2 separate regions of the Homo sapiens genome follow, and region 2 is linked to region 1. The links come from fine-mapping of genetic effects on gene expression. A gene starts in region 1. The other region holds a variant in brackets. All regions are shown on one strand. Distances are from middle to middle.

Region 1 (15,855 bases):
TGGCTAACGTGGTGAAACCCCGTCTCTACTAAAAATATAAAAAAATTAGCTGAGCGTGTTGGTGTATACCTGTAATCCCAGCTACTTGGGAGGCTGAGGCAGGAGAATTGCTTGAACCCAGGAGGTGGAGATGCAGTGAGCTGAGATCGCACCACTGCACTCCAGCCTGGGTGATGGAGTGAGACTCCATCTCAAAAAAAAAAAAAAAATTGTTAGAGGCCTGGGAGGAAGACAGAGTTTCCATGCCCTCTCCTGGAATCACGGGGCATCACCATTTCAGCACACCAATGTGTTAAACTAGGATCAGCCACTGAACTTTGGTGTTCAGAGTTTTTGCTGGGGTTTCAAAGTGTAGGCATGATTGATTAAACAATTGACCACATGATTGAACTCATCTTAAGCTCCTCTCTCTCCTAGAGTTCCTACCAGAGTTCCAAGGGGCCCAGAGTCCCAACCTTCTAAACACATGGTTGGTCTTTCTGGTCACCAAACCTCATCCTGAAGATATCTAGGGGTCTGCACAGAGTCACTTCATTACTGTAACAAAGGCATTGCCATCACTTGGAAAATTTCAAGAGCATTTGAAGCACTGTGCCAGGAATGGGGGATGAAGACTTGATATATTCTTTATTATACTACATTGTGCCTAAGTATTTTAGTATATGCAAAACCATAGTACATTGAAGTTATTGTAAGTCAAAAGTGCAGACCGGGTACAGTGGCTCACACCTGTAATCCCAGCATGTTGGGAGGCCAAAGCGGGTGGATTGCTTGAGCTCAGGAGTTTGAGACCAGCCTGGGCGACATGGTGAAACCTCTCTACCAAAAGTAAAAAGAAATTAGCCGGGTGTGGTGGTGCAGGCCTGTGGTCCCCGCCACTTGAGGGGCTGAGGCAGGAGAATCACTTGAGCGTGGGAGGTCGAGGCTGAAGTGAGCTGAGATTGCGCTCCTTTACTCCAGCCTGTGTGACAGAGTGAGACCCTATCTCACACATAAAAAGTGCATTTTCAATTTATGATTTTTGTTTTTCTTTTCCTTTCTTTCTTTCTTTTTTTTAGAGACGGGGTCTCACTCTGTCACCCAGGCTGAAGTGCAGTGGTGTGATCTCGGCTCACTGTAGTCTCAACCTCCCTGGCTTAAGTGATTCTTCTGCCTCAGCCCCCACAAGTAGCTGTTTTGCACCACTATAAAGTCAAAAAATCATGTCGGGGACTGTCTGTACCTCTAAATAAGTAAGGACATTTTCCTATATAGCCCCAATATCATTACCATATGTAACAAAATTAATGAGAGTCATTTCTGCTTGATTTTCAGTGGCTGTCTAGTATCCAAAGCATGCATATATCCTAAAGTTCTTGATGGACATCAAGATGCCTATTGATGGACATTGAGGATATTTCTACTTTTTCATTAGGGGAAACCACACTAGGATGAACATTCTTATGCATACATCTTTTTATCCTGTAAGTGTCCCGTTACTACCAGAGAAAATTGTGACTGCTTGTTTTCCTAGCAGGGAGCTGTGAAATCCAATTCAAAGGCATGGTCTTTAAAAAAAAAAATCTTTCTTTTCTTTTGTTCACATCAGGCAGGTAATGTGCAGATGTGGTAACAAGGTTGGAGGGAGGTATATCTCACACATGCACGTGAAACTCCAGTCATCATGCTTATCAGCTACAAAAGAATCAAGGTATTGTCTTTCAGTGAAGCATAACATATCCCTGTCCCTAGTGCAGTCAGCATGGCTTTGCCTGAACTTTTACTATAATCTGTGTACCAAAGAAGTCTGATGTTATCGTATTCTTTCGGGCAAGGATGAGGGCCTTCTACTAACTCTCCAAGGCCAGTGGGCATAATGACAGATGTTATGGACTGAGTTGTGTCCCCCCAAAATTCATATGTTGACACCCTAGCCCCCAATGTGACTGTATCCAGACATAGTGTCTTTAGGAGGTAATTAAGGTCACATGAGGTATAAGGTAGAGCCCTAATCCAAGAGGACTGTGGCCTTACAAGAAGAGGAGCAAGAAAGTGGTGATCTGCAAGCCAGGAAGAGGGCCCTCTCCAGAACCTGATCAGGCTGGTACCCTGATCTCGAACTTCCAGCGTCCAAAACTGTAAGAAAATAAATTTCCCTTCTTCAAGCTGGTATTTTGTTATGGTAAGTCGAGCTAAGATTTTGATGAAGTTGGACTTCAGAATTCTTGGTGGAAGTGACAGAAACTTAATTTGAATTAGCTTGAGAAAAAAAGAATATTTCTTCAAAGAACTCTAGGAAAGAAAACAATGGGTATTAGAGTAAAACCACTGGCCTCTGACACACTGCCTTTGCAACTTCTCCCCAAAGTGCAGTGGCTCACTTTACCCTGAGGTTGGAGGATGATGTGGGGTGGGGTGGGTGTCAAGAGGCTACAAGAGAATTAAGGAGGCCTCTGTGGGGCCACAACCTACGCTTATTATTGTAACCTGAGGTTCACCACAAATCATGGGTGCCTTCTCATGGCAGATCAAAGCTTTTTTTTGGCGGGGGGTCGGGGGTACAGAATCTTGCTCTGTTGCCCAGGCTGGAGCTCAGTGGCACGATCTTGGCTCACTGCAACCTCCGCCTCCCGGGTTCAAGTGACTCTCCTGCCTCAGCCTCCTGAGTAGCTGGGATTATGGGCACATGCCACCACGCCTGGCTAATTTTTGCATTTTTAGTAGAGACGGGATTTCGCCATGTTGGCCAGGCTGGTCTCAAACTCCGGACCTCAGGTGATCCACTCACCTCAGCCTCCCAAAGTGTTGGGATTACAGGTGTGAGCCACCTCGCCTGGCCAGATCAAAGCTTTTATGGAAGGCTTCATGGCATTGCCTGTAGAGAACTGGAGTGCTTGAGGTACAGCCCTCAATCTTTGGATAATCTCACCCCAAGTCAGTAAAAGAAACACTCATTATCTCTTTCCTTCTTTCCTTCAGAGAATCCATATTTAGCTTGCTTGCAGAAGGAAGGAGTCAGGGCTCTTTTTGTTGGGGGTGGGTTTGGTCTCATGAAACTTTGCATTAGAGTCCAGTTTTCCTAGGGTTACCATTGTGCCTAATGACAAAAGTTATGGGGTTTTGATATTTTAAATATTTTATATATTTCTAATATTTTATTTCAAATGTATTTTCTAACAATATTCGACATCTCTGGTGCATTTATTTGGTGCTTAAAGATGCGCGTCTCAATCACTCCTTTGTCTTTAGCCACCAACTAGAAACTGACAACTCGCAAATCTGGATTTTCAACCCACCCCCTGGGCTTCAGTCCCACACATGCTACAGCCTGCTGGTCTTGGCTGTCTGTTAAGTGCCTCAATATTCAACATGGCTAAGATTAAACTTATCTTCATCCTCATATCCCTTTCTGTTTCCATAAAAGCCATTTCTTCCTTTAGGTTCCATATCTCAAAAGCCTGGGTTTTCTTCCCTCTTGTCACACCTTGCAGCTTAAGTAATCACCATATCAAGATTCTTCCTCTGAAGTTCCTAAATACCTCTCTATCTCCATGCCCACCGCCAACACTTTACTCCAGGCTACCATCACTCCTCACCACGATTATTACAATCTTTTCTTATTTCTGTTCTAGCCACCTTCCCTGCCCAAGCCATTTCATGTCAAACTAGACTTTTTTTTTTTTTAAGACTAAGGAACAAAGAAACATGTCACTTAAGACATTTGCTAAGCACCCACTATGTATCAGGTAATGGCATGAGGTCACAAAGATGGGTTAAACACTGTTTAGCTTCATTTCTTACTCCTACCCAATGTCAACTCTATCCTTCAGCTACTTTCAGTCTTCAGAAGGTAATTTTTTCCCTTGCCTCCAGGCTTTCATACTGTTGCCTCTGCCTACAATACTAAACCCTTTGCCTAATTGCTTCCTATTTATCTATCAGTCTGGTCTCAGTTTAGACATAATTTCTCCAGATGGTGTTACCAATCTCTCTACTCTGGGTTAGGTATCACCTCTATTTTTTTTTCTTTTTTCTCCAACTGTTAGCTAAATATCCATGTGGTGTTTTAATAATTCCTAACCATAGAACTTTTAAAAATAAGTTTTATTGAAATATAGTTCACATTGCCATAAAACTCATCCTTTTAAAACATATAAAAAACATATGCCAGTGGTTTTTAATATATTCATGAGGTTTTTCTGAACATCGTCAATAATTCCAGAGCATTTATTTCCATCAATACAAAAAAAAACAAAACCCAAAACAAAAAACCAACCCTGGAAATGACCAATCTACTGTCTATATTTAGAATTTTGCCTACTCTGAACATTTTATGTAAATAGAATCGCGTAATTAATGTGCCTTTTGTGTCTGGCCACTTTCACTTAGCATAATTTTTCAAGTTTATCTATATTGTAGCATCTATCTGTACTTCATTCCTTTTAAGGGTCAAATAACCTTTCATTGTATGGATATAGCACACTTTGTTTATCCATGCATCAAATGACGGATATTGGGGCTGTTTCTGCCGTCTATTATGAATAATGCTGCTATGAATATGCACGTGCAAGTGCTTGTATGCACACACGTTATCATTTCTCTTGAGTATATACCTAAGTGTAGAACTGCTGGTTCATATGATAATTCTATGTTTAACATTTTTTTGAAGAGCTGCCAAACTTTTTCAACATGGCCGCACCATGATACAATCCCATGAATAGTGCATGAGAGTTCTGATTTGTCCACATTCTCACCAGCATTTATCATTTTTTAAATTTTAGTTTTTCTAGTGGGTGTGAAGTTGTATCTCATTGCAGTTTTGATTTGTATTTCCCTGAGGGCTAATGATGAGCATCTTTTCATGTGCATTTGTATATCTTCTTGGAAGAAATGTCTATTCAAATTCACTGCCCATTTAAAAAACTGAATTATCTGAGGCCAGACATGGTGGCTTACGCCTGTAATTCCAGCACTTTGAAAGGCTGAGGCGGGTGGATCACTTGAGGTCAGGAGTTCGAGACCAACCTGGCCAACGTGGTGAAGCCCTGTTTCTACTAAAAATACAAAAATCAGCCAGGCATGGTTGTGGGCACCTGTAATCCCAACTACGTGGGAGGATGAGGTACAAGAATCGCTTGAACCCAGGAGGTGGAGGTTTCAGTGAGCTGAGATTGTGCCATTGTACTCTAGCCTGGGCAACAGAGCAAGACTCCAACTCAAAACAAAAAAACAAAACACACACACACACACACACACACACAAAACAAACCCAAAAACTGAGTTGTCTTTTCATTGTTGAATTGTAAGAGTTCTTTATATACTCTGGATACTAATCAGTTATCAGATATGTTATTTGCACATTCCCTTCCATGTTGTGGACTGTTACTTCACTTTCTTGATAGTGTCCTTTGATACACACAAAAAAATTTGTTTTGAGATATGGTCTCACTGTTTCCCAGGCTGGAGTGCAGTGGCACAATCTCTGCTCACTGCAACCCCCACCTCCTGGGCTAAAGCAATACTCCCACCTCAGCCTCCTGAGTAGCTGGGATTAGAAGCACCCACCACCATGCCCTGCTAATTTTTTTGCATTTTTTTTTGTAGAGATGGAGTCTCATTTCATTACCCAGGATGGTCTTGAACTCCTGGCCTCAAAGGTAATCCTCTTGCCTCGGCCTCCCAAAATGCCGGGATTACACAGTTGTGAGCCACCAAGCCCAGCACTAAATTTTTTTTTAATGAATGAATGGATTAGGTAACCAAAATATCAAGTTTCTTTTTTCTGTCTAAAATTGTATCAACTCTGTGCAGTAACATTGTTTTCATCATGTTGTTGGCAGTTAAAAATTCCTTGACTAACAATTCAGAAGCAAACGAATGCACAAGATGATAGGGATTGTGTGATTTAACAGGTTTTGGAGCAACACTGATCTGGATTCAAATCCTAACTTTAAGAACTGTATCCTTGGGCAAATTACATTACTATTTTTCTTTCTTTAAAATGCGTTTTTTTGTTTGTTTTTTAAGTGCCAGGGGTTTATTTCCCTCACATGTGGGATGGCTCACATACACAACACACAAAGGCGTTGGCACCGTGGGAGAGGGCAGCACCCCTGGCTTCTGCTTGGCCTCACAGTGTAAGAAGGGAGAGGATGGGTTCTCTCTCCTCCCCTCACTAGGGCCTAGGGGACCCAGGAGCAAATTCCATCCCTTTCACCTCTCAGCCAAGGAGAAGCCACATTGGTGACATTTAGTTCCAACAATTACAGTAAGTGGAGAAGGGATTGGTCTGGTCCCGACCATTACACGGTGAAGGTATACATAGTAAAGGAAGATACAGTTTGGATGAGGCCACAATAGGGTGCAGATGACACCATCAGAAGCATGTGCAGGGGAGGGGCAGTCACTCAGCTTCTGGGCTGCTTAGTTCCTGGGTTGGCAGGAAGGGTAGGGAAGACGGATGGGGCTCATTGTTTGGCATTGATGATGTCTACGAATTCGGGCTTGAGGGAAACACCACTCATGAGGAAGGCAGCCACGTCAGGCTGGCTGGCCAGCTCCTTGCAGGTTGCCTTGGTCACAGAGCCTCCATAAATGATACCAGTGCTCTGAGCCACTGCATCAGAGATGTTGGACTTAAGCCATCCTCGGAGCTTCTTGTGTACCTCCTGGGCCTGTTGGGGTGTTGCAGTCTTGCCAGTACCAGTGGCCCACACGGGATCATAGGCCAAGATGACCTTGCTCCAGTCCTTCACATTATCTGCGATGACCTTTGTCTGCTCAAAAACAACCTTCTCAGTGATGCCAGCTTCCCTTTCATCTAGCTTCTCCCCAATGCAGGCGATTACTCCGAGTCTCTCTGCCAGAGCATGGGCCACTTTTCTGCCCAATCAGCTCATCTGACTCCCCAAAGACACGCCTTCTGAGTGCCCCAGGACCACACCACCCACGTGACTCCTAAGTCTTTGACCATGCCAGGGCTGATCTCCCCAGTAAAGGCCCCATTAGTCACTTTGTAGCAGTTCTGCGGAGCCACAGCAATCTTGGGAGCTAGCTTCTGCCGGGCCAACTCGTTATACGCAGTGGCGAGAGCACAAATCACCTTGGTGTCGGCAGGCACAGTGGCCGCGTTCTGAGTGCCGATGAGCTCCCCCAGACATTTCTTCCGCCCGTTCATCTTCCAGTTCCTCCCCACGAAGAACTTCCTGGAGGGCGCCATGGCGCTGGAGCTGAGGCGCTGTAGGTCAGTGTCAGCGCCTAAAACGGGTTTTATTAATACTTGGCAAGGTTGTTAGGCGGATTAAATGAGATCTTGTAACTACAGTGTTTTACACATTGTGATCATTTATCAAATAGCAGTTATTTACTAGTGCAAAGGACTAGCAGCAATGTTAATATCAATATACTGTTACCTTTTGTCCCTAATTTCTCCATAGTACAGTTTCCAATATTTCTGTTTTCTTTTGTGAATTGTTAGACCACTGGTATTGGATTCGGACAGAAAGGCATTCACAAAAATACAGTTCAATGTGAGAATAACCCTAAAGATGTATGCAAAATGCTCTGGAGTTAGAGCACCAGGAGCTGTAAGCAGAATGAAGACCTCTTTTGGGCTTAAGAACTAAGTAAAGGGGAGCTGAACAAAGATTCTAGGCATTTTGGATTTATCTCAATGTGGCACATATTTCAGGTTTGTAAAATAGTTCAGTTGACTACGTGTCTGTCTCCTCCACTAGAGCCAGCGTAGGTACCATGTCTTAAGTCATCTTTGGATCTCCAGTACTGTGGCCACTCTAGGGAGAGTTGAATTGACGCGCCTTGATCACCAGGGCAGAAAAGGATTCTCTGGAGAGGGATGGGGCAGTCGGAAGGGGTAGGAAAAACCTGGATCCGTTTCCAAGGAGCTGAAGGCAGCTCAGATATGGGGCACATCTCGGCGCTAATGTCCCAAGCTGCTAGCGAGGAACAGAGAGAACACCGGCTCTTCTTCCCGGCTCCTGGCCCGGCAGGGTTACTTCCGGGAGGGGGCGGGGAGACAAGAGGAGGCGTGCCGGGAAGGAGGCCGTTTGTAGTGTACCAGGCGGAAGTGTGCCAAAGGTATCGGTGCTGTCGCTTCCGGTCCGGGTAAACGAACCTTAGGTACACTGGTGTGTGGCCTCCCAAGATAGGCTTCTGAGGGCAAGTCAGCGACTGAAGACGGGAGCGCCAGAATCTGTGGACTCAAGAGTCTAGAATCAAGTGGAAAAACCGGAAAAAAGGCCAGGAACCTGAATACGACCTAATAGCTGTTTCCGAGGGGGCAACTTCCACGGAGAGCCTTCTGCCCTGGTAACGGCCAAAGAGGAGGAGATGGCGCCAGTCAGGGAGCGGCCGTGGCCCAGACAGTGAGGAAGCGCGAAGGCGGAGCAACCGAGGAATCCTCCGGAGAAGAATCAGAGCCGTCGCTACCGCCACTACCGCCACCACCATGGAAGGAGCAAAGCCGACATTGCAGCTCGTGTACCAGGCAGTGCAGGCGCTTTACCACGACCCAGATCCCAGCGGAAAGGAGCGCGCCTCTTTTTGGCTTGGGGAGCTGCAGCGTTCGGTGAGGGGCCCAGAGAGGCAGTTCTGTGCCGCACGGCCGGGGCGGGGTGGAACCTAGGCTCCGGGGGAGAACCTGAGCCCGGCAGTTGACCTCGTGAGGTCCTCCTTGGGGAGGAGCTGCTGTCGTGGGGTGGGGCTGCGAAGCTACATCTTTGCCGCTTTTGGGAAACTAGTCGCACCTGATCGGTCGCGAACTGGCCCTTTCCCCACCCGGCAGAATCTGATTTGTAGGTCTTATACTCTTCGATTGTGGCATCAATCTAATCTTGTTTAAGTTCTCCCTTTGCCGTTGCTTCTTGGGCCGTGCTTTTCCGTTTTGTCTTCCTCCCACCAAATCCAACCCCAGTGTTTCTCCACCTTCCGCTTAAGAAGGCTTTATTCGTCTCCCCTCCGTGTCCAAGACTTGCATCTGGCATTTTGCTCCCAGTCGTAGCCTTATGCCTCACTCTTTTTGCCTATTTTCACTCCAGTTTGAGTCTGTTCTTCTCGAAACTTCTCAGGTTTCTAGATTCTTACTCATGCGAGTTTTCCCCTTGCTTTGGAGTGGCAACATAATATGAAGAAAAAACAGTAATTCTGCTTTCAGAAAATCTTTGGAGTTCTCATTTTGTTTCATATTAATCCTCTAACCTTGTTATTTCTCTGGCTTTTAGATTTTTATTTATAAGATGGGTATCACTGCTGCTTTGATTATTCCATATAAAACTGTGTGTGCATCCGGTGAGATATTTAATTGTAGCTTATATCTGTTGTATTTCTGCATTCTTTGATTCATGTTTTATGCTTCCTGCCCTAATTTTCACACCTTTGCTGTGCTTCATTTCTGTGTAAATGTGTATTCTTGGTTATCTGGCTGACTTAGGTTCTAATGTAGGATGTACTTTAAAAATTAAGTACTTTGAAAACTAAAGAGGCTTTTTTTACAGGCTGACAAAATACTCACCTTTACCTTTATTTTTGCATTTTATACTCACAACCATATTTTTTTTGGCCCCCTTCCCTTTATTTTAACTCATAACTGATACTTAAAGGTGCTCTGCCTTATTAAATCAGCTCCTAGGCTGCAAGTGCATAATATTTAAAAATTTGCAACTTTGACTTTTTAAAAATCTGGTCTTGGTATGGAGCAACTTTGCCTTTTTTTTTTTTTTTTTTTTGAGACAGAGTCTCGCTTTGTCGCCCAGGCTGGAGTGCAGTGGTCCCATCTCAGCTCACTGCAACCTCCTCCTCCCGGGTTCAAGAGATTCTCCTGCCTCAGCCTCCCGAGTAGCTGGGATTACAGGTGCCTGCCCTGACACCCGACTAATTTTTTTTTTTTTTTCTTGAGACAGAGTCTGGCTCTGTTGCCCAGGCTGGAGGAGTGCAGTGGTGCTATCTCGGCACACTGCAACCTCCTCCTCCCAGGTTCAAGTGATTCTCCTGTCTCAGCCTCCTGAGTAGCTGGGATTACAGGCACACGCCACCACACCCAGCTAATTTTTGTATTTTTTAGTAGAAACGGGGTTTCGCCATGTTGGCCAGGCTGGTCTCTAACTCCGACCTCAGGTGATCCGCCCGCCTCGGCCTCCCAAAGTGCTGGGATTATAGATGTGAGCCATCGCCCCCCGCTGCAACTTTGACTTTGAATATTAAACCTAAAAAACTGGCACCCAAGTCCTCTTCAGAAAATAAAGGAATACGACTCACTGTAGGCTACACAAGAAAATCATTCACATATGGTCTCATTTAGTGTTTCTGTGATCTCTGGAGAGTCAACAATTCCCTGATCTTTGTATAGTTTTCTAAAGTGTAATTAGGAGAAGTGCTACACTATACTAAAAAAGTAATCTCTTTCTAATTAAACCTGCTTGTTGTGTGTATTTTAAATCAATATTTGAGTGCTTACCATGTGCCAGCAACTATGCTGGGTGTTTGGATTTGGAAATGAACCAGACAAAAATCTCTGCTTACCACAGAAGGTAGTTGTGATTAAATGAGTTAATATTCTACGAAGAGGTTAGAAAAGTTCTTGGAACATAGAGATTAAAATGTTAGCAATTGTTATTTAAGTATTAGTCACTTTTCTCTCCTTACTTTCCAATACTCTATTACAACCTTACATCATCTTCACCATCACAGTTAATAGTCAGAGTCCAGACAGGAACAGATGGCACACTTGACAGGATAATCTGAGTTTATTTTATAAAGATACTATTATAAAGATTTAGGTATAGTGGTGTGACAAGAAATAGTTTGGTAACCTATAGCTGAACGGTTAACATCCCATAAAAGAGGGAATAGTTACTTGAAAAGTATGGAGTTGGCTGCCTTGAGAGGAATGGTGACTTTCAGCCGAAGGGACATAGCTAGTTTCAGGTGACCTTGAGAGAATGAAGCTGGAGGAATGAATATCCTGACCCTGTTCTCTTAATTTCTTGCTGGGATTCCCCATTGGCCAAACCCAACCGGAAGCCAGGGGCACAGTGACCTGTTGGTAAAGTCTATACAGGTCAGCCTATTGGAGCAGAAAACATGATAGAGGAGGGTGGAAAAGTGGATCTGGAAAATATCCAGCAGTAACACATCACGTTTAGGCAACTTCAGCATCTGGATTGACAGTTCAGCTAACACTTTGGCCTTCTGATTCCTTTACCTCTTCATTCTCTTTAGCCACCTGGTCACACAATCACACCCTGGATCTTGTCTTTACTAAAAAGCCACCACCCAGGCTGGGCGTGCAGTGGCTCACGCCTGTAATCCCAACACTTTGGGAGGCTGAGGCGGGCGGATCGCTTGAGGTCAGGGGTTTGAGACCAGCCTGGCCAACATGGTGAAAACCCGTTTCTACTAAAAATACAAAAATTAGCTGGGCGTGGTGGTGCGCACCTGTAGTCTCTGCTACTCAGGAGGCTGAGGCAGGAGAATCTCTTGAACCCAGGAGGTGGAGGTTGCAGTGAGCTGATATTGTGTCACTGCACTCCAGCCTGGGCGACAGAGCGCGACTCCATTTCAAAAAAAACAAAAAAGTTGCCAGCCAGGCCAGGCCCATTGGCTCTTGCCTGTAATCCCAGCACTTTGGGAGTCCAAGGTGGAGGATCCCTTGAGCCCAGGAGTTCAAGACCAGCCTGGGCAACATAGCGAGACCTCATTTCTACAAAAAAATAGGAAAATTAGTTGGGTGTGGTGACATTTGCCTATAGTCCCAGCTACTCAGGAGGATCCCTTGAGCCCAGGAGTTCAAGACTGAGTGAGCTATGATTTCGCTACTGCACTCTAGCCTGGGAAACAGCAAGATTGTACAAAAAAAAAAAAAAAGTCACCACACCTCCAAATCACTGATTCAGACATTCTGCTGTGATCATAACCCACTGTTTTCCAGTTTGCTGGCTCAAAAATATCAAATAATGTCACCTAGTTTTTTTTGAAATCTTTATGTAGTTTTACTAATATTTAAGTTTTATTTTTAAAACAAAATTTTGTGGAACCTTTTTTTTCCTGTTGGTAATCAAATACCTCTTTTTTTTTTTAACATTTTGTTTTCTGGGTATCCACAATAAGTCACCCTCAAATCTCAGTACTGTAAATATCCTCATTGTTCAGACTGGTGATTTGTTTTCTTTTTTGGCTAAAGGAAATATGTATCCCAAGAGCCCTCCATTTCCCTGCTCCAGTCTGGCCTGGTTCGCTAGGTCTGTTGGATAATTACTGTCATGGGATTCCATAAACACTGTCCTAGGGAATTCCCTTTGCCTCTTTGTTGTGCTGGATCCACTGATTCTTGGATTCCATGATGTTTTCTTGGGTTACTCTTCCATTTAATGGATCATCGAGAAGGGAACCTTCATCCTTTCTCTCATTGCTTTTCTGTTGGTCTGTTTTTCTTGGGCTGCTTTTACCTTGAGTTCTCTAGTCAGCCTGGGGGTTATAAGCTAGACTGCCAGTGTTCTAAAGCCAGTTCAGGGAATGAAGCCAGGGGATGGATCTCACAACTAAGTATGTAGGTTTTAATTTAATCTCTTGTTTTTCAGCATGATACTCCTGTCTTTAGCTGAGTCTGTTGTCTAAGAGTCCAGAGACCACCTACTTCAATCTTTCCACAGTAAACCTTGAGTCTTCTGTTATGGTGGGAGAGTAGTAGCCTGGTTGCTCAGAGTCAGAGAGGAAATTTAGGAGTCTACTGCTTCTTACACAGATTTTGACCCTTTTATTTATTTAAACTTTTTTCTTTTTTTGTTTTAAGGCTGCATTACTAGCCGATTCCCCCCCCACCCTTTTTTTTTTTTTTTTTTTTGAGACAGAGTCTCGCTGTCTCCCAGGCTGGAGTGCAGTGGCGCCATCTCAGCTCACTGCAAGCTCCGCCTCCCGGGTTCACGCCATTCTCCTGCCTCAGCCTCCAGAGTAGCTGGGACTACAGGTGCTTGCCACCATGCCCAGCTAATTTTTTGTATTTTTTAGTAGAGACAAGGTTTCACCATGTTAGCCAGGATGGTCTCGGTCTCCTGACCTTGTGATCTGCCCACCTTGGCCTCCCAAAGTGCTGGGATTACAGGCATGAGTGACTGCGCCCAGCCCACCCCACCTCACCCTTTTTAAAAAAAGAAAAAAAAGAAAAGAAAAGTTGGGGTCTCGCTATATTGCCCAGGTTGGACCCGAACTCTTGGTCTCAGGCAATCCTCTCTCCTCAGTCTCCTGAGTAGCTGAAATTACAGGTGCACACCACCACATCCAGCTCCACTCCTTTATTTTTTGTTCCGCCTGTGCATCTGCCTTCAGATGTACCTGTGCTTCCAATTCCCCAGTCTTCCTGGGTTTTGCAACATGAATAGTTTGTCCCTTGCCTTCCCTATTCTCGTCTCATCCTCCCTCCCCACCCCCAGGCAAATATCAGCCTTTTCGGATCTGCTAAGACAGTTAACACTGTCCTTTAGCTTTCCAGTTTCCACAGTTCTATTGATATCTGTCACCTGTTTCCATTTTCTTTGTCTTTATGTGTTTTTGCCTTTTTTAAAAAAGATCTTTACTCTGATTTTTATTGGATTTTTGGAAGGACCTGAAAGCAGACAGCTGTGTTCAATCAGTTAGTTTAGTCATTTTAAACAGAAGTCCCTGCATTAGTTCTTGAATTTTATCAAAACCTCAGTTCATTGACTGTTCCTTACTTCTTCTTTATTAGGTCTTCTTGTTTTTACTTCTCTCCTTACCAAATGTGGATTCCAAGATCTATCATTCTAGTCATTTTATAAATACACCATCACCTTTCCCCTCCAATTTGGTCAGACTTCAGCATGGTTGTATGCAGCTGCTTCTCCTCTTGTCAGATCTAGGTGCTTTGCATCTCTCAATCTTCTGAAATTTCTGGGACCTTGATCTTTTGGTTTATCCTATGTCTTGTCTGCATCTTTAGACTCCTTTACTGAGTCTTTCCCATCAGCATCCAAATAGCTGAAATATTTCTCATAGTACACAAATATTTTGGGGTAGAGTGGATGCCGCCTTTGCCCAACTTTACTTTCTTCTCTGCTTTTACCCTTTCCCAACCCTTTCTTCAAATGCAGAAACTAACTCATCTTTTGAAAGCCCAACCTAAATTCTGCTTTCTCCTTCAAGGCTTACCTGCTTCTCTTCAGCCAAAAGTGATTTCAGCCCCCAATGAATGCCTAGAGAACTTTACTTCATTGTGTTTGCCTTTTTATAAACCTTTTTGAAAATAAGTGTTTTGCCTCCCCTACTAGACTGGGATTCTTGTCACATTTGTTTATGTAGTCCAATACCCATAGTTGAAGAAATAAACCATGGTTATTAAGATAAACAATCAAGACACTTCACACACAGGTTCTTAAAAATGTTGATTGTCAGAAGTGCATACATGCAGATACTCAGTTGGATAACTCACATTTTTCTTTATCTGCGAGTTTTATTTATTTTTGCTGTCACTTTTCACCATATACATGGTTAAAAATAAACAATATTCAGCACCTTTAATGCTCTTCAGTCTTTCCAGTCTTTTTTTTTCTTTCTTTTTTTTTTTTAAATCCTTTATGAGATGTATATGTTGCCCTCATTTCATACTTGCAAATATTCAGGTACAGAAAGGGAGAGGAACTTTTTGACTCAATAAGGCTCTCTTTGTTTATTTATTTTTTGAGACAGAGTCTCACTCTGTTGCCCAGGCCGGAGTGCAGTGGCACCATCTTGGCTCACTGCAACCTCCGCCTCCTGGGTTCAAGCAATTCTCTTGCCTCAGCCTCCCAAGTAGCTGGGACTACAGGCACATGCCACCATGCCCGGCTAATTTTTGTATTTTTAGTAGAGATTGGGGTTTTGCCATGTTGGCCAGGTTTGTCTCAAACTCCTGGCCTTAAGTGATCTGGCCGCCTTGGCCTCCCAAAGTGCTGGGATTAGAGGTGTGAGCCACTGCACCTGGTCTATTTATTTAGTTTTTTGAGACAGGGTCTCACTCTGTTACCCAGGCTGTGGAGCGCAGAGGTGTGATTACTGCTCACTGCAGCCTTGCTCACCTGAGCCTGGGTTCAGGTGATCTTCCCACCTCAGCCTCTTGGACAGCTGGGACTACAGGCATGCACCACCATACCTGGCTAATGTTTTGTATTTTTTGTAGAGTCAGGGTCTTGCCATGTTGCCCAGGCTGGTCTCAAGCCCCTGGGCTCAAGCACTTCTCTCACCTCAGACTCCCAAAGTGCTAGGATTACAGACATGAGTCACTGTGCCTGGCCAAGGCTCTCTTTAAGTGGTCACTAAATGGCATTTGTAACCAAAAGTAATGTGTGTGGTGGTTTTTTTCTTTCCGGAAGATTTTGTCTACTGGAACAAAAGCGTGTTTTAACTGTAGTAATAACTATAGTGTTTTAACATCCATTTGAAATTGGTAAGGCATAGAATTTGTGTGGTTTGCTAAAAAACTACTTTCAAGAATATGTATTTGTGAAACTATTATCCTTATTCTTCTCTACCACCCCACCTAACTAATCCGAGAGTAATTGAGTATAGTTCGAATGACCTGGTGACAGTAGACGTGGTATAGAGGTATAATTTGAATATGCTTTAGCCTGTACTGTGAGTTAGCATCTTTTCTCTTTCTCTAATATTTGTATAAAACAGCCATTTTCTGAAGAATCTGTATTCATTGCTCTAAACTTCCACCAAAATTTTTGGAGATGTACAGCCATGGTTGTTTTATGTGATAGATAGATATCACTGATAACTTCAAAGTGTTCTGAAAGAGAGTATTTTGAGGCAGATCTTAAAGGAATCTTAGTAGCCTGTCCTGTATATTTAGTAGTTTCATTTGTC
Region 2 (15,855 bases), 24 kb before region 1:
ATTCTCCTGCCTCAGCCTCCCAAGTAGCTGGGACTACAGGCGCCCGCCACTACGCCCGGCTAATTTTTTGTATTTTTAGTAGAGACGGGGTTTCACCGTTTTAGCCGGGATGGTCTCGATCTCCTGACCTTGTGATCCGCCCGCCTCGGCCTCCCAAAGTGCTGGGATTACAGGCGTGAGCCACCGCGCCCGGCCGAATTTTATTTTTTTTAGAGATAGTGTCTCGCTCTGTTGCTCAGGTTGGAGTACAGTGGCATGATCGTAGCTCACTGCAGCCTCAAAATCCTGGGCTTAAGTGATCTTCCCACCTCAGCCTCCTGTGTAGCTGGGATTACAGGTGCAAGCCACCATGCTGGGCTAATTTTTAAATTTTTTGTAGAGATGGGGTCTTGCTATATTGCCCAGGCTGGTCTCGAATTTCTGGCCTCAAGCCATCTTCCCATCTTGGCCTCCCAAAGTGCTGGGATTACAGGTGTGAGTACTTCACTGGTCTGCAGCTTTATTTTTAGTAGCCAAAAATAGGAGCCAATCCAATGACTCAATAAATGAATGGCTAGACAAACTGAAGTATATTCATATAATGGAATGACCTCAGTAAGTGAACATTTTTTCAGTAACAGCTTTATTGAGATATAATTCACATAGGTAAAAATTAGCCATTTTAAATATGTAATTTTGTAGTTTTTAGTATATGTACGGGTTGTGCAAACACCATCACAATCAATTTGAGAATATTTGTATTACCCCACAAAGAAATTCTGTACCCTTTAGCAGTCACCTTCATTGCCCCCAGCCACCCTCACTCTGACCTGGGCAACCACTAATCTACTTTCTGTCTCTATTTGCCAATTCTGGACATTTCACATAAAAATGGAATCAGGCTGGGCATGGTGGCTCACACCTATAATCCCAGCACTTTGGGAGGCCAAAGTGGGCGGATCACTTGAGGCCAGGAGTTCAAGCCCAGCCTGGCCAACATGGCGAAACCCCATCTCCACTAAAAATACAAAAATTAGCTGGGTGTGGTGGCGCATGCCTGTGATCCCAACTCCTTGGGAGGCTGAGGCAGAAAAATTGCTTGAACCCGGGAGGTGGAGGTTGCAGTGAGCTGAGATTGTGCCACTGCACTCCAACCTGGGTGACAGTGACACCCTGTCTGAAAAAATAAAAAATAAAAATAAAAATAAATAAAAATGGAATCATACAATATGTGGGGTTGGTATGTGTGTGTTTGGCTTCTTTCACTTAGCTGAATGTTTTCAAGGTTAATCTGTGTTGTGGCGCGTATCAGTGCTTCATTCCCTTTTATGGCTGAATAATATTTCACTGTATGGATAGACCACATTTTGTTTATCCATTCCTCAGTTGGTGGACATTGGAGTTCTTTTCACATGTTGACTATTATAAATAATGCTGCCATTGGCCAGCTGCCGTGCCTCACATCTGTAATCCCAGCACTCTGGGAGGCCAAGGCAGGCAGATCATTTGAGGTCAGAAGTTTGAGACCAGCCTGGCCAACATGGTAAAACCCTGTCTCTACTAAACAAAATACAAAAATTAGCTGGGTGTGGTGGTGGGCACCTGTAATCCTAGCTACTCTGGAGGCTGAGGCAGGAGAATCACTTGAACCCAGGAGGCAGAGGTTGCAGTGAGCCGAGATCGCGCCACTGCATTCCAGCCTGGGTGACAGAGCGAGACTCCGTCTCAAAAAATAATAATAATAGGCTGGGCGCAGTGGCTTACGCCTGTAATCCCAGCACTTTGGGAGGCCGAGGTGGGCGGATCACGAGGTCAGGAGATGGAGACCATCCTGGCCAACATGGTGAAACCCCATCTATACTAAAAATACAAAAAATTAGCCAGGCGTGGTGGCGCATGCCTATAATCCCAGCTACTTGGGAGGCTAAGGCAGGGGAATCACTTGAACCCAGGAGGCGGAGGCTGCAGTGAGCCAAGATCACGCCACTGAACTCCAGCCTGGCGACAGAGCAAGACTCCACCTCAAAAAAATGTATAATAATAAATAAGGAATAATGCTGCTATGAACATTCATATACTGGCTTTTGTGTAGACACATTTTCTCATTTCTCTTGGGTATATACACTTAGGAGTGAAATTTTGGGGTCAAAAGATACCTCTATGTTTAAATGTTTGAGAAACTGCCAGACTGTTTTCCAAAGTGGCTGCATCATTATACAAGTCCACTCACTAGCAGGGTATGAGAGTTCCAATTTCTCCCTACCCTCACTAACAGTTGCTTTTGTCTGTTTTTTAAATTTTTGTCATCCGAATGGGTGCGCAGTGATATCTCATTGTGGTTTGTTTTTAGTAACAGCTTTATTGAGAGATAATTCAAATAGCGTACGACTCACCCACTTAAAGTACATGCAGTAATGTGGATAGATCTTAAAATAATTAGACCAAGTGAAATAAACCAGACAAGAGTAAGGACTTTTGAATAAAAGCTATGTTAACTGGAAATAAAAGAATAAATATTGTACGATTGTATTCCTATAAAATTCTAGAAAATATAAACCAATCCATAATTACAGAAAGCAGATAAGGGACAATGGGGGGTTGAGGAGAGAGTTTGGGGGAAGTTTCCAGGAAGAAGGGATCACAGGAGGACACAAGGAAACTTTTGGGGGCTGATATTTATTTTTATTATCTTTTTTTTTTTTTTGACAGCCTCTCACTCTATCGCCCAGGCTGGAGTGCGGTGGCATGATCTCAGCTCACCGCAACCTCCACCTGCCGGGTTCAAGTGATTCCTGTGAACCACCGTGCCTGGCCTATTTTCATTATCTTGACTGTGGTCATGGTTTCACGGGTGTATATGTATGTCAAATCTTATCCAATTACACTATAAACATGTAGTTTACTGTATGTCAATTATATCTCAGTAAAGCTATTTTGAAAGAATACAAAGGACTCTACAATATTCTGTCACCTCCCCTTTGTCATGTCACTATACTTTTACCCTGAAAGCTCCCTCCAAACCATATCCCTTAAAATTTATTTATTTATTTATTTATTTATTTATTTTGAGACGGAGTTTCACTCTCGTTGCCCAGGCTGGAGTGCAATGGCGTGATCTCGGCTCACCGCAACCTCTGCTGCCCAGGTTCAAGCAATTCTCCTGCCTCAGCCTCCCGAGTAGCTGGGATTACAGGCACCTGCCACCGCACCCAGCTAATTTTTTTTGTAGTTTTTAGTACAGACGGGCTTTCACCATCTTGGCCAGGCTGGTCTTGAACTCCTGACCTCATGATCCACCCACCTAGGCTTCCCAAAGTGCTGGGGTTACAGGCGTGAGCCACCGCGCCCGGCATGACCTCTGTTTTATACCATTAACTATGAGATTAACAAAAACCTTTACCTTTGTGCAGAAGGTTAAAAAAAAAAAAAGCATAGTCAAGGAAAAGGAGATGTGTTACCTCTTCATACACTCCTACAACCATGGCATTGCAAAAAATAAAAATAACCACCTTTAAAAAAAAACCTAATTTAAATTGCTGTTCAATAATAATAATATATGTAAGATGATTAGATCAGTTCCTGGCATATGGTAAATATAGGTAAGTGTTTGCTATTTATTTTTGAAGCAAAAATGAGGATTTGTCAAAAATTGGGTGAGCAGCTACTTATGGAGGATAAAAGAACCTTTCAGGCTGTTTGGGAAAAGCTTCATTCTAAGTTTCTTCTTTGTAAGAGGACCTATTGCTGCCAGCACTTCTCTTGCTAACAATTCTGGTGGGTGATTTATCTTCGTTCTGCATTTCTTTCCGTAGCTCCTGTAGACATTGAAGGTAGGGTGAACCTGTTACTAAGGGGAGATACAAAAGTAGTGCAGGGGGTAAGATTAATCGCATGGGAATGAAATATGCTCTGAGCTTCTGAACATTTGTTACGTGAACCTGAGGAATGAAATGATATACTGAGCACTCCACAAGCTGTTTTTTCCGGTCAGTTGTCTGGTCAGAAATTTGTTAACTCACTCCTCCCTGATTCATCACACTGTCAGAAAGCTTGTATAACACGGAGTCTGAAGCATTCCAGAATCTTTCTTTTTTCTTTTTTTTAATAGAAATGAAGTCTTGCTATGTTGCCCAGGCTGGTCTCAAACTCCTGGGCTCAAGTGACCCTCCCACCTTGGCCTCCCAAAGTGCTAAGATTACAGGTGTGAGCCACCACATCCAGCCTAGAATCTTAAATTTACTATTGTACTTTGGGACCACAAGAACTTAAAAGTAAGAGGAATAAAATTATCATGAATATTAGTTAGAATTCAGTTTGATAATAACAGAAAAAACCTAAAACACCGGCTGGACGAGGTAGCTCATGCCTATAATCCCAGCACTTTGGGAGGCCAAGGTGGGTGGATCACGAGGTCATGAGACCATCCTGGCCAACATGATGAAACCCCGTCTCTATTAAAATACAAAAAAGGTTAGCTGGGTGTGGTGGTGCAGGCCTGTAGTCCCAGCTACTTGGGAGGCTGAGACAGGAGAATCGCTTGAACCCTGGAGGTGGAGGTTGCAGTGAGCTGAGATTGCGCCACTGCACTCCAGCCTGGGCAACAGAGTGAGACTCCGTCTCAAAAAAAAAAAAAAAAAAAAAGAAGAGGAAGGGGAATTATTACATCAGAGGGCAATTAGCAATCATTTTTTTTTTTTTTTTTTTAGATGGAGTCTCGCTGTGTCACCTAGCCTGGAGTGCAGTGGCTCGATCTTGGCTCACTGAAACCTCCACCTGCCAGGTTCAAGTGTTTCTTGTGCCTCAGCCTCCCGAGTAGCTGGGACTACAGGCGTGCACCACCATGCCAGGCTAATTTTTGTATTTTTAGTAGAGACAGGGTTTCACCATGTTGTTCAGGCTGGTCTCGAACTCCTGACCTCAAGTGATCGGTCTGTCTTGGCCTTCCAAAGTGCTAGGATTACAGGCGTGAGCCACCGTGCCCGTCCTAATCATAGAAAGTTAATAATAAGATCAATATATAATTAGCATGTGACAAAAAAGCCTGGCTCCTAGGATTTGATTGTTTAAATTAAAAGATTGAAAAAAATCTGTTTGTTAGAAGGGGCATTGTTTAGCATGGATTCTTGGAAGAGGACACTTCTGGGAGGTGGACATAGGCATTGCCCATCCATGTATTGGGCACAAAGGAAATCACAGCCTTTAAATGACAAAACAACTTATAATGGAGATGTGGAGGCAGGAGGTTGTAACCAATGGGATGTGAGTACTCTGCAGTAAGTAACCTGTTGGTGAGACCACCTCTATTATAGGATGACTGGCCTAGGCTATCTTAGCCTCACCTGTTACCACTGAACCCTGGGGCTTCGTCTAATTTCCATGTGTTTTCCATGGCCACTTGGCAGTCAACTTTCTCATTTTCATGGCGACCTACCGACCAGAGAGAATATGCTGCAGAGAGAGACTTGTAGGGGAGAAGTAGCTGACCCTGTAACAGTCCCAATTATCATGGTCAATGAGTGAATTGGCAGCCCGGCGTCTCCCTCAGCCTCCTATGTCCCTTTTCCAATGTGAGTCTGTTCTCAGAGTCTGGTCCTCGCTGTGTATTGCCAGGGGTGAACCTGTGGTCCTTCAGGGTGGAAGTTCTGATCCTGAAAAGTGTGATTGCCTGGCCAGGCGCAGTGGCTCACGCCTGTAATCCCAGCACTTTGGGAGGCCGAGGTGGGTGGATCACGAGGTCAGGAAATCTAGACCATCCTGGCCAACATGGTGGAACCCCATCTCTACTAAAAATATAAAAAATTAGCTGGGTATGGTGGTACGCACCTGTAGTACCAGCTACTCGGGAGGCTGAGGCAGGGGAATCGCTTGAACCTGGGAGGCGGAGATTGCAGTGAGCCAAGATCACGCCACTGCACTCCAGCCTGGCGACAGAGCAGACTCCATCTCAAAAAAAAAAAAAAAAAAAAAAAAGGTGATTGCCCTGAAGGAGACTTTTCCAGCTCCAAACCACTTCCCTTAGATGACATCAATCAGCTCTCTGCTGGTTCGAAGAATATGTTGAAAACAGTGTCAGAGTTAGCTATTTTCATTTTATTATAGTTCTTTGAGAACTGGGAAGAGACAGTGGGAGTGTCTTGGAATATATATTAGGTTTGGTATCAAGAAACTGGTCTAAATTCTGTTATTGCCAGTAACTACCTTTAAACCTCAGTTTCCTCATTCATTTGTAAAGTGGAGCAAACTCATAGCTGTCTTGCTCGCCTTAAAGCTTTTAATGCAAATGGTAAAACTCCTTTCTAAAGTAGATTATTATTCTGTGAACACCTGTGGTATTCAGAGTTTAATATAAAGAAATACGATCAATATCCATTATAATTACACCTTGTTTACAACTTTTTTTTTTTTTTTTTTTTTTTGAGACGGATTCTCGCTCTGTCGCCCAGGCTGGAGTGCAGTGGCGCGATCTCTGCTCACCGCAAGCTCCGCCTCCCGGGTTCACGCCATTCTCCTGCCTCAGCATCCCAAGTAGCTGGGACTACAGGCACCCGCCACCATGCCCGGCTAATTTTTTTGTATTTTTTAGTAGAGACGAGGTTTCACCGTGTTAGCCAGGATGGACCTTGTCTATAACTTTCAAGCAAAATGTCTTAGTTGGTAGAATACTCAGCACCTGTACCATGTCAGATAGTTTACAGTACCCAGAGGCACTAAAACATGGTTTTTGTCCTCTGTGAGCTTGTGGTTTTCCCCCTAATATGTTCTCTTTTTTTTCCACAATGAAAATAGCTTTTAAAAACATAAATATCATATATGCTGGTAGAGAAAAATAGAAAAGTATAAGAAGAAAGTAAAAATCTCCTTAAGGCCGGGCACAATGACTCACACCTGTAATCCCAGCACTTTGGGAGGCCGAGGCAGGAGAATTGCTTGAGACCAGGAGTTCCAGACCAGCCTGGGCAACATAATATTTGTCTTATAAATTAACATACTGAGACCCTGCTTCTACAAAAAATACAAAAATTGGCCTTGGCTACAGGTGGTGCTTGCCTGTAGTTCCAGCTACTTGGGATGCTGAGGTGGGTGTATCACCTGAGCTAGGGAGGTGGAGGCTGCAGTGATCTGTGATCGTGCCGCTCCACTCCAACCTGGGTGACAGAGTGAGACCCTGTTTCAAACAAAACAAAACTCCTTCAAATCCATTGCTCAGAGGTAATCACTGCACATTTTGTTTGTTTGTTTGAGACAGAGTTTTGCTCTTGTCATCCAGGCTGGAGTGCAAAGGCACCATCTCGGCTCGCTGCAACCTCTGCTTCCCAGGTTTAAGCAATTCTCCAGCCTCAGCCTCCCTAGTATCTGGGACTACAGGCTTGCACCACCACGCCTAGCTAATCTTTGTATTTTTAGTAGAGACAGGGTTTCATGATGTTGGCCGGACTGGTCTCAAACTCCTGACCTCAGGTGATCCGCCTGCCTCAGCCTCCCAAAGTACTGGGATTACAGGCATGAGCCACTGCGCCCGGCCGATCACTGCACATTTTGGTGCTCTCCCTAGCTGGCCTCATTTATAGAAGTGTACAAATGTAATTAGAGGGGGAAAATTGTAATCATCAGAATGTAAGAGGGGAAGGCTTGTGTTCCTCTTGTGTTTCAATATAATTTTTTTTTTTTTTGCAGGAGGGAAAGGTAACATGCATGCATGATAAATGATTCAAATAGTAAAAAGTGTATAATCCTGTAAAAGTATGTCTTTCTACTTTCCTTGATTTACAGCATCCTTCCCCAGAGGAAACTTGTGACCACCATCTTGTGTTTCTTTTTTGAGAATTCTTTGCTTAGCTCTGTATTCCTTTGGATGAAGTTTTAAAATTTTTGCCTTATAAATTAACACACAGAACAGGCGAGGTGACTCACACTTGTAATTCCAGCGCTTTGGGAGGCCAAGGATTTGGGAGGATTACTTGAGGCCAGGAGTTTGAGACCACCCTGGGCAACATAGCAAGATCCTATTTCTATTAAAAAATTAACAAAGAAGGCTGGGGGTGATGGCTCATGCCTGTCATCCCAGCACTTGAGAGGCTGAGGCAGGCAGATCGCTTGAGGTCAGGAGTTTGAGACCAGCCTGGCCAACATGGTGAAACCCTGTATCTACTAAAAATACAAAAATTAGCTGGGCATGGTGGTGCATGCCCATAGTCCCAGCTACTCAGGGAATTGAGGTGAGAGGATTGCTCGAGCCCAGGAGGTCAAGGCTGCCAGTGAGCTGTGATCACATGCCCCTGGACTCCAGCTTAGGTGACAAAGCAAGACCCTGTGTCCAAAAAGTAAAATAAAAAAATTAAAATTTAAAAAATTAACAAAGAAATTAACATACAGCAATATTGACCCTTTTTTAAAAGTACTACAAGTTTTAACACATGCAGATTCTTTTAACCACCTCCACAATCAGCATACAGAATGGCTTCATCACCCCTCTAAACTCTCTTAGGCTATCTTCTTTTGAGACAAGGTCTCATTCTGTCACCCAGGCTGGAGTGGCATAATCATGGTTCACTACAGCCTTGACCTCCCTGGGCTCAAGTGATCCTCCCGCTTCAGTCTTCCAAGTAGCTAGGACTACAGGTGCACACCACCACACACAGCTAATTTTTTAAGGTTTTTGCAGAGACAGGGTCTCATGTTGCCCAGGCTTGTCTCGAACTCCTGGGCTCAATCAATCCTCCCATCTTGGCCTCCAAAAGTGCTAGGATTATAGGCATGAGCCACCGTGCTTGGCTTTATGCTATCTTTCTGTAATTATATCCTCCCCTCAATTCCATATCCCTAGAAATCATTAATATGTCCTTCAACACTATAGTTTTGTCTTTTCGAGAATGTCATATAATAAAATCATACAATGTGTAACTTTTTTTTTTTTTTGAGACAGGATCTTGCTCTGTTGCCCAAGCTGGAGGTGCATTGGCACAAACATAGCTCACTGCAGCTTTGACTTCCTGATCTCAAGTGATCCTCTCACCTTAGCCTCTAGAGTGGTTGGGACTACAGGTATGTGCCACCAC[G/T]TATGGCTAATTTTTGCATATTTTGTAGGGATGGGATCCCACTATGTTGCCCAGGCTGGTTCAAACTCCTGGTCTCAAGTGATCCTCCTGCCTTGATCTCCCAAAGTGCTGGGATTACAGGTGTCAGCCACTGCACCTAGTCAATATGTAAGTCTTGAGACTGGCTTCTCACACTCAGTGTAATGCCTCTGAGGATCATCCCAGTTGTTACCAGTGTCATAATTTGTTTCTTTCCATTGTTGACTGGTATCTCATTGTATGAATGTACCAGTGCAAAAAGTTTCTTGGCCGGGTGCGGTGGCTCACACCTGCAATCCCAGCACTTTGAGAGGCCGAGGTGGGCAGATTATAAGGTCAGGAGTTTGAGACCAGCCTGACCCACATGGTGAAACCCCATCTCTACTAAAAATATAAAAATTAGCCGGGCGTGGTGGCGGGTGCCTGTAATCCCAGCTCATCGGGAGCCTGAGGCAGGAGAATCGCTTGAACCAGGGAGGCACAGCTTGCAGTGAGCAGAGATAGCGCCACTGCACTCCAACCTGGGCGACAGAGTGAGATTCCATCTCAAAAAAAAAATAAAAAGTTTCTTTATAGTTTCAGCCACTGAAGAACATCTGGATAATTTCTAGTTGGGGGCAATTATGAATAGCGCTGCTATAAACATTCACATGCAGAATTTTGTGTGCACCTATGTCTTCATTTCTGTAAATACGTAAGCGTGGGGTTGCTGGGTCATGTGGTAGGTATATGGTTAACTTTATAAGATGCCAAACTGTTTTCCAAGAGGCTGTACCATTTTCCATTCCTACCGGAAATGTATGAGTTGAAGTTGTTTCACATTCTCGTCAGCACTATTTATTCCTAATATCTTTTTTTTTTCTTTTGAGACAGAGTCTTGCCCTGTTGCCCTGGCTGGAGTGCAGTGGCTCAATCTTGGCTCACTGCAACCTCCACTTCCCAGGTTCAAGCGTTCGAGCGAGGAGTCTCGCTCTGTCGCCTAGGCTAGAGTACAGTGGCTCCATCTCGGCTCACTGCAAGCTCCGCCTTCCGGGGTCACGCCATTCTCCTGCCTCAGCCTCCTGAGTAGCTGGGACTACAGGCACCCGCCACCACACCCAGCTAAGCTTTTTGTATTTTTAGTAGAGTCGGGGTTTCACAGCGTTAGCCAGGATGGTCTCCATCTCCTGACCTTGTGATCTGCCTGCCTTGGCCTCCCAAAGTGCTGGGATTACAGGTGTGAGCCACCGCGCCCAGCCTCAAGCAATTCTTGTGCGTCAGCCACCTGAGTAGCTGGGATTACAGGTGTGCACCACCAGGCCCAGCTAATTTTTGTATTTTTAGTAGAGATGGAGTTTCACCATGTTGGCCAGGTTGGTCTTGAACTCGTGGCCTCAAGTGATCTGCCCACCTCAGCCTCCAAAAGTGCTGGGATTACAGACGTGAGTTGCCATTCCTGGCCTGTTATTTTTTATTTTTATTATTCTATTAAGTGTGTAGTGATATCTTAATTTGTATTTCCCTAATGGCTAATGATGTTGAACATCTTCTCATGTACTTATTTGTCTTCTATATATTTTCTTTGGTGAATTGTCTGTTCAAGTTTTTTGCCCATTTTTAAATTGGGTTGTTTGTCCATTTCTTATGACTGAATTTTGGGAGTTCTTTATATATTCCAGATGCAAATTCTTTGCCATGTATGTGATTTGCAATATTATGCCTCATCTGTAGTTTATTATTTAATTCTTTTAAAATTGTCTTTTACAGAGCAACAGTTCAAGTTTGATGAAAACTGGAAGAAAATATTTTAATAAACGTTTGGGTTAGAGGTAAAAATTAGTGGTCAGTAGAACACCCAAGAAAGGAAACAGCCTCCCTGCACTGTTTGGGGGTGGTAGCTGGCAGGCACCTAAAAACACACCAGTTTTTGAAAACTTCTCTAGCTTTCTCACTGTGTTACTTTCACACTGTGCTATGGTTTGAATGTTTGTGTGCCCCCAAAAGTGATACATTGAAACCTCATCTCCAATATGATGACATGAGCAAGTGGGAGTTTTAAGAGATGAGGTCATGAGGGCAGAGACTTAATCAATAAAATTAGTAACTTTATAAAAGAGGCCCCAGAGAACCTCACGGCCACTTCCACCATGTGAAGACACAGCAAGACGCTGCAATCTATGAACCAAGAAATGGGCCCTCACCAGACACTGCATCTGCCTGTGTCTTGATCTTGGACTTCCCAGCTTCTAGAACTGTAAGAAATCAATTTCTGTTGTGTATCAGCCACCCAGTCTATGGTATCGTAGCCCAAATGGACTAAGACACACTGCTTTCTCAAATATTCTTTCTCATAGTCTCAACAACCATTGTGTCAATGTATTGCCTTCAAACACTTTGAAACGTTGACATTTTCGGAGACTGTGCCAAAAAGGAGGAAATATCCCTTAAGCCAGGCTTCCATCCTGAATTCTACACACAAGATGAAGAGAAGAGATTCTTTTACTCCTTCCAGAAAGGGGTGAAAGAAGGAAAGAGGAAGCTAATAGGAACAGAAAAGCTGTGACCTGCCCATGTGACCATTCCCTGCCACCTCCAAATGGTCACCAAGCATTTCCAGAAATACCTCATGAATGCTCTGAGTTGCTCCATCTACATGATAGGGAGTTCTACGTGGGATTCCTTGCAAGCAGCTCTGATGGCAGGAGGGGAGACCATGGGAAAAGGAGCACTGGGGCTGGCAGAAATCTACAAGGATAGTTTTGGATTTCGACAGCCTGTGGCCTTAGCAGGGAATCTGTGTAAACTCTGCCGGGAATCCCAAGAAATGAGGCAGTGAAGGAGTGGGGGTGGGGTCTCTGCTAACTTCTGGTATGTGCATGCATGTATAAATATAAAAATATCTTTTTTTTTTTTTTTTGAGACAGAGTCTCACTCTGTCACCCAGGCTGCAGTGCAGTCGCATGATCTCAGCTCACTGCAACCTCTGCCTCCCGGGTTCAAGCGATTCTCCTGCCTCAGCCTCCCGAGTAGCTGGGACTCTAGGCACATGCCACCACGCCTGGCTAATTTTTGTATTTTTTAATAGAGATGGGGTTTCACCATATTGGCCAGGCTGGTCTCGAACTCCTGACCTCGCGATCCACCCACCTCAGATTCCCAAAGTGCTGGAATTACAGGTGTGAGCCACCACACCCTGCCAATATAAACATATCTTAAAATTTGCATGTAACTGGAACCACATTACATATGGTTAGAGAGGCCATTTTCCACTCAGCCGTATGTCAGCAAATATACAATATTTCATGAAACATAATATGCTATCACCTGTTAAATGCCCTATAAGTTTAGGTGCCATTAAGAAAGAAAAAAATGCTGCCAAATAAACTGCGATATGCCATGGAATGTAACAACTGTGAAAAAGCATAAAATAATCATTTTAGAATTGGTGGCATATGGTAGTATGCATCATTCTTTGTCATGACTGCATAGTATTTCACTCTGTGGATGTTTCAGAATTTAACTACCTGTCCATAGGTGTACATAGTGTTTCCATTTTTCACTTATGTGGGCAATACATTGTCAAATAATCTTGTACATCTATCATTGCTCACTTGTCAGATTACCTAGTTGGAATAAATTCCTAGGAATGTAGTTTTGAGGGTCAGAGGTTACAGATATTCAAAATTTTGGCATAGATTGCTAGAATTCCCCTCAGCACTCCAAGATGACACCCTTTCCCGCACAACCTTGATAACATAGACAAATCTTTTTCAATATGCAAACTGTTTCCAATATAATTGAAAAGTGCTGCCATTTTGCTCTTTACTTGCATTTTCATTGACTACTGGTGAGGCTTAACATCTTTTCATGTATCTATTAGTCTTTTGTGTTTCTTTAGGAGCCTGTTCATATCCCTCATAAGAACTGCTTTTTACTTAACTATTTATTTATTGACACAGGGTCTTGCTCTGTTATCCAGGCTGGAGTGCAGTGGCGCAATCACAGCTCACTGCAGCCTGGACCTCCCAGGCTCAAGCAATCCTAGAGCTGCCTTTTGAAAAGGAGACCACACATAGGCAGTTATAGTAGGCAAATTAGTGATTCTTCAAGAGGAAAGCAGCAGAGTCATAGAAAACAAAGAACACCAAATAGGACAAATGTGTTTTTTATTTATTTTTGAATTCAGAAACTGTGGTGAAATGAGCAGAATTGCCTGGAAGCTGCTCTGGAAGCTCATTCAAGGTTACCTGGGCCAGCCAGCTGGAACTGCAAGTAAGCCTATTCCTGGTGGAAGGAGCTCAGCCTCCACAGCATGGGCAGACTCCCTCCTCACACAGGGTGACTGCACCTTCCCACAGGCCCAAGGTCTCCAAATACTGGGAAGCAGGAATTCCTCCCATCTCCTCTGAACCCCTGGCACCCTACATCCAAGCTGCCCAGCACCCAAACCACTCATGTGTTCCCTACTCACAGACTGGTTTCTTACATTTATTCCCTAACTAATACAGCAGAACATGGACCTATCCTGCAGATCCAGCTGAGACCCTGACCTTCACATACTTCTCTATGGGACGGAGAATAGAATGGGAGACTCCTGCTTCCCCTTTGCTTGTTGACCCAGCCTTGTAAGATTTCACTTTCCCTAATAAAACCCAATCCGTAGCCCACGCAGAGTGACATATTAAAATTCATCCTAAATCCTGGAACACATGGGCAATGACCCATAAAGGCCAATGTGCCATGACAGAAACACTAAGAGTCATATCGTCCATCACTCTGTCTCAGTTCCTGTTTATTGTTGGCCAGAGAACTAGGATGATCCTCTGAGCAGACATGTCCTTGGAGGATAATTAAATGGGAACTATATAAATATTTCCATAAATTAAACCAAGGAAGTGTATTAAGTTCAGCTGAATCTGGATACCAACTGCTTCCTTTGACCACATCAGAAAGTCTCCTTTTAAAAGACATTAAAAAAGTTTTTAAATAACTTTTGCCAGGCACAGTGGCTCATGCCTGTAATCCCAGCTACTTGGCAAGCTGAGGTGGGAGGATGGCTTCAGCCCAGGTGTTCAAGGCTGCTGTGAGCTATGACTACACCACTGCACTCCAGCCTGGGTGACAGAGGCCATATGTCTTTAAAAAAAAAAAGACAGAGAAAATTACTTTTTATTGTGGCAAAATAAAAAAAGGTATAATATAAAATTCACTATCTTCACAATTTCTAAATGTACAGTTCAGTGTTAAGTATATTCGCATTGTCAGCAAACCAAAACTGGGTCCATTTGCCAGCATGCAACAGAAAGCCAAACACCAAAACACACAGTTTTTGCAGTGAGAAAGGTTTGTGAGTTGACAGACAAAGAGACAGGAAGAAATGTTCAAATCTGTCTCCTGGAGCTGGAGGCTGGGTTGGATTTTAATTAGCATAGGGTAATGAGGAGTGATCTGACTAGATCCTGCCATAGGGTCACCCCAGAGCTCAATCTGATTGGATCATGGGTCCTGCCATGGTGTCTGCTTTTATTTTTATTTTTATTTTTTATTTTAGAGATGGGATCTCACCATGTTGCCCAGGCTGGTCTCGAACTCCTGGGCTCAAGTAATCCTTCTGCCTCGGTCTCCCAGAGTGCTGGGGTTACTGGCGTACACCACCAGCGCCCAGCCTGGTGTTTGCTTCTTAATTCAGCCTGGTTCCTTGGTCCGAGCACTTAGTTCCCATTCATGGTTGCACACGATGTTCATCCGGGCATTGCCCCCTCCAACCTGCAGGGCCATGACCACTGAAAAACAACTCACAACTTTGCTACATAGAAGTTGAACCAGATTGGTGTAATGTGGTTACAACATCGCTGTGCAGCCAGTCCTCAGAACTCCCTCATCTTGCAAAACTGAAACTCTGTACAAATCAACTCTCCATTTTCCCCTCCCCTCGGCCCCTGGCAACTGCCATTCTACTTTGTTTTTGTGAATCTGACTATTCTAGTTACCTCCTATGAGTGGAACCAAATAATATTTGTCTTTTTCCGACTGGTTTATTTCACTAGTATAATGTCCTCGGTTCATCCGTATTGTTGCATGTGTCAACATTTCCTTCCTTTTTAAATGGACTGTGGTGATGGTTGCACATTTCTGTGAATATACTAGAAACCACTGAGTTGTAATACTTTAAGTGGGTGAATTGTATGGTGTGTGAATTATATCACAATTAAGTATGGTGTGTGAATTATATCACAATTAAGCTGTTTAGGGGAAAAAAGGGAGAATTTGTTAGAAAGATACAGACTCATGTAACCCAAAGACAGGGACTGGGCCTGCTGGATGCTCACAGGCTGGGTGGGGACTCTGGGGAGGATGCTGAACTAAGCTCTCTGGTTCAGCCCTCTGGCCCAGAGCAGGGGTCCTCACCATTAGTCAAGCCCCTAACCTGTAGTGTCGGTACCACCTGGGAATTCCTTAGAAAAGCAGATCCTTGGGCCACACCCCAGGCCTCGTGACTCAGAAACTCTAGCAGTGGGACTCAGCAGACTGTGGGGTTTTTTTTTCTTTCTTTCTTTCTTTCTTTTTTTCCTTGAGACAGTGTCTCGCTCTGTCACCCAGGCTGGAGCGCAGCAGCGTAATCTCAGTTCACTGCAACCTCCTCTGCCTCCTGGGTTCAAGTGATTCTCTTGCCTCAGCCTCCCAGGTAGCTGGGATTACAGGTGCCCACCACCATGCCCAGCTAATTTTTGTTTAGTAGAGACGGGATTTTGCCATGTTGGCCAGGCTGGTCTCAAACTCCTGACCTCAGGTGATCCACCCACCTTGGCCTCCTAAAACGCTG

Evidence for each region. PIP is the estimated chance that this variant, and not a neighbour inherited with it, causes the effect.
Region 2: its variant is fine-mapped to the expression of TNPO3 in whole blood (INTERVAL, PIP 0.98).

The regions. Positions count from the first base shown.
Region 1 is chr7:129,047,362-129,063,216 of GRCh38, reverse strand. TNPO3 (transportin 3) reads left to right here and starts at 8,106. Exons shown (of 23, transcript NM_012470.4): 1 at 8,106-8,566. The coding sequence starts at 8,447. It overlaps LOC124901836 (small nucleolar RNA U13), which reads right to left and starts at 1,686; the gene lies at 1,583-1,686. It also overlaps the pseudogene TPI1P2. RefSeq lists enhancers at 1,856-2,025, 6,968-7,262, 8,074-8,573 and a silencer at 6,968-7,262.
Region 2 is chr7:129,071,842-129,087,696 of GRCh38, reverse strand. No RefSeq gene overlaps it. Among named protein-coding and RNA genes, the nearest start is that of TNPO3, 25 kb to the right of the region's middle. RefSeq lists an enhancer at 14,852-14,961. The variant G/T (reference allele first, on the strand shown) is at 9,036.